Homo sapiens: one gene and its partner. The protein of the gene in region 1 purifies or fractionates together with the protein of each later gene. This does not show direct contact. Each region holds a gene or a part of one and is shown on either strand. Other genes may lie near its edges. The genes, in order: ATOX1 and GSTO1.

Evidence for each region.
Region 2: the proteins of ATOX1 (region 1) and GSTO1 fractionate together in Homo sapiens (co-fractionation; one large-scale study listed by BioGRID). This does not show direct contact.

The regions. Positions count from the first base shown.
Region 1 is NC_000005.10:151,748,398-151,752,216, reverse strand, and holds part of ATOX1 (copper transport protein ATOX1), read left to right. Parts: intron 1-437; coding exon 438-513; intron 514-3,819. UniProt on the Homo sapiens protein: Binds and deliver cytosolic copper to the copper ATPase proteins. May be important in cellular antioxidant defense.
Region 2 is NC_000010.11:104,257,748-104,261,566, forward strand, and holds part of GSTO1 (glutathione S-transferase omega-1), read left to right. Parts: intron 1-1,828; coding exon 1,829-2,051; intron 2,052-3,819. UniProt on the Homo sapiens protein: Exhibits glutathione-dependent thiol transferase and dehydroascorbate reductase activities. Has S-(phenacyl)glutathione reductase activity. Also has glutathione S-transferase activity.

The DNA of each region.
Region 1 (3,819 bases):
TAGTGCAGAAAATAATTTTGTGGTTCATAAGTGGGCCCACCAGATCAGCATTGCTCAGAGTATGGGGGCCCATCCCTGTCAGAGTTACTGGTGGCCCTGAGACAAAGCTCATAGCTCAAGAATCAGTGTTTTGAAGGTAGGACTGGGAAAAAGCATTTTAAACTAGATCTCCAGGTGATTCTATTTACTATGTGCCAGACACTGCTAAAGGATTTATAGGGATGATTCCATTGAATACAACTTGTGAGGTAGAAACTCTTAGCTACTCTATAGTTGAAGAGACGGGCTCAGAAACAGGCTTCTGATGAGTCTGATGCCAACCAGGTCCTGCCCAGTCTCTCTGTCTTCTGTCTTGACCCTGAGTGGGCCTGTCTGCTGGCACTGTGTGGGGGTCACTCTACAGGGCTCGGGTCATGGTCCCCCTGTGTTTGTTTCAGAAGCACGAGTTCTCTGTGGACATGACCTGTGGAGGCTGTGCTGAAGCTGTCTCTCGGGTCCTCAATAAGCTTGGAGGTGAGTGAGTGGCCCTGAGTTGGGTGCACTTATGCCATGTTCAGATGCATGCAGATGTTGCAGGAGAGACTTAGGGTTAAGCTGATCATAACAGTAAAACTAAAATATATTGAGTACTTAGCACGTGCCAACTACTCTTGTTATTTTCTTAGTGGCTTATGTGAATCACATCATTTAATCCTCACCACGGCCATTTCAGATAGTTTTTTTTTTACTAGCTCCATGTTAAACAGGAGACAGCTGAAGTTCAGAAACATTAAATAACTTATCTGGGATCACATGGTCAGTAAATGGCAGAGCTGGGATTTAGCCAAATTAACTAGTACTGCCAGGAGTAGCTCTGGAGCCATGGCAGTACTAGTTCATATGTTGGTCATCTCCAGTGTGTACTGCATGACACATCTGAGTGTCATTTTCTATTGAATTTTTTTTTTTTTTTTTTTTTTTGAGACAGAGTTTCGCTCTTCTTGCTCAGCCTGGAGTGCAATGGTGCAATCTCGGCTTGTTGCAACCTCCGCCTCCCAGGTTCAAGCAATTCTCTTGCCTCAGCCTTCCAAGTAGCTGGGATTACAGGCATGCACCACCACGCCTGGCTCATTTTGTATTTTCAGTACAGACGGGGTTTCTCCATGTTGGTCAGGCTGGTCTCGAACCCCTGACCTCAGGTGATCTGCCCGCCTCGGCCTCCCAAAGTGCTGGGATTACAGGCGCGAGCCACCCTACGCAGCCTCTATTAAGGTTTTTTAAATGGGGCTGGGCACGGTGGCTCACACCTGTGATCCCAGCATTTCGGAAGGCTGAGGCGGGCAGATTGCCTGAGCTCAGGAGTTCCCGAGACCAGCCTGGGCAACATGGTAAAATGCCATCTCTACAAAAAATACCAAAAAAATTAGCCAGGCATGGTGTTACATGCCTGTACTCACAGCTAATTTAGGGGGCTGAGGTGGGAAGATCGCTTGAGCCTGGGAGGTTAAGGCCACAGTGAGCCTAGATCGTGCCACTGCACTGCAGTGGGGGCAACAGAGCAAGACCCTGTCTCCAAAAAAAAAAAAAAAAAAAGAAAGAAAAAAAGGAAAGATTTAAAAAAAGGTAAAAATTTTTAAAATTTTGTCTTTTTCTGTTTCTTTACTTCAAAAAAAAAAATTTAAATTAATTTTGAATCACTCACATGCAGATTTTTTTTTTTTTTTTTTTGAGATGAAGTCTCACTCTGTTTGTTGCCCAGGCTGGAGTGCAGTGGCATGATCTCAGCTCATTGCAGCCTCTGCCTCCTGGGTTCAGGCGATTTCCGGTGAATTTTTGTACTTTTCATAGATATGGATTTCACCATGTTGGCCAGGCTGGTCTTGAACTCTTGACCTCAAGTAATCCGCCTGCTTTGGTCTCCCAAAGTGCTAGGGTTACAGGCATGAGCCACCGCACCTGGCCACATGCAGATATTCTTAAAGCACCTCTTTTGAACAATCAGTCTCATCCAGCCTTGTCATTTTACAGCTGGGGAAACTGAGGCCCAGAGAGGACTGGGATCTGGTCCTGGGACTCAGTGAGGTAATAACTGAGTTGTGATCAGAGTTTTGGCAATGCCAGTGCTCAGTCAGCCTTCTAAGATTTTTTCTTTTCTTTTTCTTCCACATGAACTATCACACAATCTTCTAAAATTTTCTTTTTTAAAACCCTAAATAATAATGACATTAAGTTTTCAAATGGCTTCCACATGGACGTGATCTCATTAGCAGTCCTCTGAGCTGTACTTTCCATCTTTGGAATGGGGATGTCGATGCCAGTGTCCAGGAGGTTAAGTGACTTGCCCGTAGTCCCGCAGCAAGTCAGTGGCTGGCCTCTAGCCCTGTAAACTGGGATCTTAATCTGAAAGAAACTGAAACAGTGGAAAGAACCTAGCTGCTGACTTGTCATGTGACTGTGGGCCCTTCTTTCTCGGGCCTGGGTTTCCCCAGCTGTGGTATGGGAATGTATATCTTGTATGTCTGTATCAGCTTTTGCTGTTGATGCTTTTTTTTTTCTTTTTCTTTTTTTTTTTTTTTGGAGATGGAGTTTGCTCTTTCACCCAGGCTAGAGTGGAGTGAAGTGGCATGATCTCTGCTCACTGCAACCTGCTCCACTCTGCCCCGGGTTCAAGCGATTCTCCTGCCTCAGCCTCCCGAGTAGCTGGGATTATAGGTGCCCGCCACCACGCCTGGCTAATTTTTTTTTTTTTTCTGAGGCAGAATTTCGCTCTTGTTGCCCAGGCTAGAGTGCAATGGCGTGATCTCAGCCCACCGCAACCTCCACCTCCCAGGTTCAAGCGATTCTCCTGCCTCAGCCTCCTGAGTATCTGGGATTACAGGCTCAGGCCACCATGCCCGGCTAATTTTGTATTTTTAGTAGAGACGGGGTTTCTCTATCTTGGCCAGGCTGGTCTCAAACTCCTGACCTTAGGTGACCTGCCCACCTTGGTCCCCCAAAGTGCTGGGATTACAGGCGTGAGCCACCGTGCCCAGCCTGTTGATGCTTTAAAAATGAAACTGTACAGGAGCTCCTCAAATACAAAGCAGCAGGCTCTGGATGAAGTGGGGATGGGCCTAATTTCGTTTGACAGCTCAAAGACATCTACCCATCCCAGGAACTTCATCCAGGCTGGAGTGCAGTGGCGCGGTCTTGGCTCACTGCAGCCTCAACTTCCCAGGCTCAAGCCATCCTCCCACCTCAGCCTCCTGAGTAGCTGGGACTACAGGACCACACCCGGCTATTTTTTTGTTTTTGTTTTTGTTTTTTGTAGAGACAGGGTCTTGCTTTGTTATGCAGGCTGGGAAACCATATGTTTTGTTTGTTTGTTTGTTTGTTTTGAGAGGGAGTCTCACTCTGTCTCCCAGGCTGGAGTGCAGTGGCATGATCTTGGCTCACTGCAACCTCTGCCTCCCAGGTTCAAGTGATTCTCCTGCCCCAGCCTCCCGAGAAGCTGGGATTACAGGCACATGCCACACACTGAGCTAATTTTTGTATTTTTAGTAGAGATGGGGTTTCACCACGTTAGCCAGGCTGGTCTTGAACTTCTGACCTCAAGTGATCCACTCGCCTCAGCCTCCCAAAGTGCTGGGATTACAGACATGAGCCACCACGCCTGGCCAACCATATGATTTTTAAGGCCCCTTGCTGGAAGATCTGCCTTTAAGCTTCGGCAGGTTTCTGCCCATCTTTTCCTACTGTCCCTGCTTGGGTGGCCTCTTGAGAAGGGTCAGGAGGGTTTTTTGAGTTGCTTATGGCCCTAAAAGAACAGTGGTAGGGCTGAGGAATCACAGACTGATGGCA
Region 2 (3,819 bases), on another chromosome or scaffold:
TAGTGGACACAATTCAATTAGTTGCCTCATATGATTTATAACTAAGATACCTCTTAGCCATAAATGGAGTATCTTATTGACAATTTTGAAGCATTTCCACAGATTTATTCATTCATTTATATGAAATATTTCAAAACAAAAATATTTACTGAGTCCTTATTTGAAACTTTTTATTTTCTTCAGAGCATTTATATCTATATAGCATTTTGCTCATTTACATGTTTGTTTATTACTATGAACAGATACACAAGATCCCACCTTTCGTGAAGCTTACATTCTAGGAAGATAACAAACTTGTAAATAAGTGAGCAAAGTAATTTCAGATACATATTATCAGTTCAATGAAGAAAGTAAAACATGATAATCATGTAATAGAAGCTGCTCAGCAACTTCAGAGCTATGGTCAGGGAGGGCCTGGGGATGTGTGTTTGACCTGGGAAGACCTGGGAAAAGGCAGGCAGAGGAGGCAGAGGACCATCAAGTGCAAAGACTCTAAGGTGGAAACACATTTGGCAAATTCAAGGAATATAAAAACCGCCAACGTGTAAAAGAAAACATAGGGGAAAAGCTTCATGACACTGGCCTTGGCAATGATTTCCTGGACATGACACCAAAGACCAGGCAACAAGACCAAAAATAAACACATGAGACTACAGCAAACAAGCTTCCACACAGCAAAGGAAACGATTAACAGAGCAAAAAGGCAACCTATGGAATAGGAGAAAGTACTTGCAAACCACATACCTGGTAAGGGGTTAATCTCCAAAATACATAAGGAATCTCTACAACTCAACAACAAAAAAACCTGATTTTAACATGGGCTAAGATCTTACATAGACACTTCTCAGGCTGGGCATGGTAGCTCACGCCTATAACCCCGAGGCAGACAGTTCACTTGAGCCCAGGAGTTCAAGACCAGCCTTGGCAACATGGCAGAATCCTGTCTCTACAAAGAAATTAGCTGGGTGTGATGGTGCACGCCTGTGGTCCCAACTACTCGGGAGGTAGGAGGATCGCTTTAGCCCAGGAGGTCGAGGCTGCAGTGAGCTGCGATCAAGCCACTGTACTCCAGTCTGGGAGACAGAGTGTCAAAAAAAATTAAAAATTAAAAAAATAGACATTTCTTCAAAGAGGATATAAAAATGGGCAACACATATATGAAAAAGTTCTTATCACTAATCATCAGGAAAATGCAAATCAAAATCACATAATAACCTCACACTTGTCAAGATGACTATAATGAAAAAAGACAAGTGTTAGCAAGGATGTGTAGAAATCAGAACCTTTGCACACTGTTGGCGGGAATGTAAAATGGTACAGCTGCTATGGAAAACAGTATAGATGTTCTTCAAAAAATTAAAACTAGAACTACCATGTGATTCAGCAATCTCACTACTGGGTATATATCCAAATTAAATGAAATCAAGTTCTCAAAGAGATATTAGCACTCTCACGTAGACTGCAGCACTGTTCACAACAGCATAATGTCAATGTCCATCAGCAGATGAATGGATAAAGAAAATGTGTTAATGCTATTCCACCTAAAAAGGAAGGAAATTCTGCAATATGTGACAACATGGATGGACATTGCGGACATTATGCTAAGTAAAATAAGCCAGACACAGAAAGACAAATACTGCATGATTGTTCTTAAAAGGTGTATCAAAAGTAGTCAGATTCATAAAATCAAAAACTAGAATGGAAGGAATCTAGGCAGACTCCTAAATTTGGGGTCTGATCAGCTAAGTGGATGGCAAAGCCAGTGAGAATTTATCCAAAAGCACAAAAGTTGTTTCCTTCTCTTCATAGTCTCCTATGTGTCTTTCAGGCATGAAGTCATCAATATCAACCTGAAAAATAAGCCTGAGTGGTTCTTTAAGAAAAATCCCTTTGGTCTGGTGCCAGTTCTGGAAAACAGTCAGGGTCAGCTGATCTACGAGTCTGCCATCACCTGTGAGTACCTGGATGAAGCATACCCAGGGAAGAAGCTGTTGCCGGATGACCCCTATGAGAAAGCTTGCCAGAAGATGATCTTAGAGTTGTTTTCTAAGGTTTGTGCATAAGAAATTTCAGCTCCTATTTGAAAAACCTGTTTTTTAAAGCGAAATCAGTGCTGCCATTTATGGTTCAGTGATTTGGGAGAGAAAAACAAAACAGGAATATGCTTGTCAGCTCTGAGTGTCCTGCAAGTCCTTTCACGATCCAGTTCCTGTTTACCTCCAAAATTATCCCTTTTCACTCGTCTCCTGACACTTTATATATGCCAGCCATACTAAACTTTTCTCAGAATTCCCAAATTCGCCCCTTTCTCTTTCAATTCTTGCTGTCAGATTCTTCCCACTTCTCACTGTGCCTGGTTATCTCCACGTCATTTTTCACATGTCTGCTCCGACACTGCTGCCTTTTCAGGAGCTTGGCAGGCTGGTTAGTGCTCTAGCTTCTGAGTTCCCATCCGTGTGAACTTTTGCCTGCCTTCTTGCCTGTGTACTGCACTGGGGCTGTGAGCTCCTTGAGGGTGAGGGCTGTGTTTTGATCACTGTTAGTTCACTGCCTAGTTTTATGACTGGCTCTGCTACTTTCTTGTGACTCTGAGCAAGTTACTTATTACTTTGCCTCTCCGTTCATCATTGGTAAAATGGATATAGTAATTGTTCCCACCTCATAAGATAAAAATCAGTTAATATAAAACACCCAGAACAGAGTCTGACACATGGGAACTACTTAATTCTTGTCCTTATAGCCATAGCATCAAGCAGTGAGCATCTACTTTGTGTTGGCAATAACTCAGATGACTGAATAAATAGCAATCCTGTAGAAGAACTGTTTGTACCTTACTTAGCATCAACACTGTGGATTAGTTCAAACAATTAGTATTAACAAAGAAATGACTAAAAGATGTGTGTTTAGACACCAAGAATAGCATGTCTGGTTATATGCCTATAACATTGTCACCTTGGTAGTACGGTCAGTATATAAAGGATTATCTTTAGAGAAAAAGATGGTTAAAGAAATGCCCTAAGAGAGAGTTATAGGGAAAACATTCTGTTTTAGGAGACATTATAAAGGGAAGCCAATGGGACAGGAAGAGTGAGTCATCTGCTTAGTAAGATGAGGGTGAAAGAATAGTAGAGGCGGCTGCTGTGAAAGATAATGTAAAGGGAACATGACATTTTCAAGAACGATGTGGGAGAGTTTTACAAAGTAGTAACAAGTTAAAGGCATGCAGCTTCAAGACACGAAGTCATCAATACCAACCAAAAAAAATAAGCCTAAGTGGTTCTTAAAGAAAAATCTCTTTGGTCTGGTGCCAGTTCTGGAAAACTTTTTTTAGTATGGCTGGAATATAAAGTGTCAGGAGAAGAGATAAAAGGGGTAACTTTGGAGAGGTAAACAGGAACTGGATCGTGAAAGGACTTGTAGGACACGTCAGAGAAAATGAGCTTTAAAAGTAAAGCTTTTAGACATGAAGCTTTACTTTCATGCATAAAGCTACTACTTTAAAAAGTAGTCACAAGAGATTCATTGTACTATCTAGAAAGAAAATGAGATTTAAAAGTAATGCTGAAGATGCCCACCTTTACTTCCCTGCTTGGGTTTTAAAGGAGAGGTGGCTTTATGTACATATGACCCTGCTCTCCTGGCCACAGCCCATCAGAACAGAAATGTACCCCACCCCACACACCTGGGCCAGTTATCTTCTCTCCTGGGAACTTGGAAATGAGACACAGAACTAAGACAGTAAAGGTTAGGACAGTAAAGACAACTAAGCGTTGGGGCTCAAATAATGTTAATTAGAGGCTAGAAAAACCAAAGCCACTT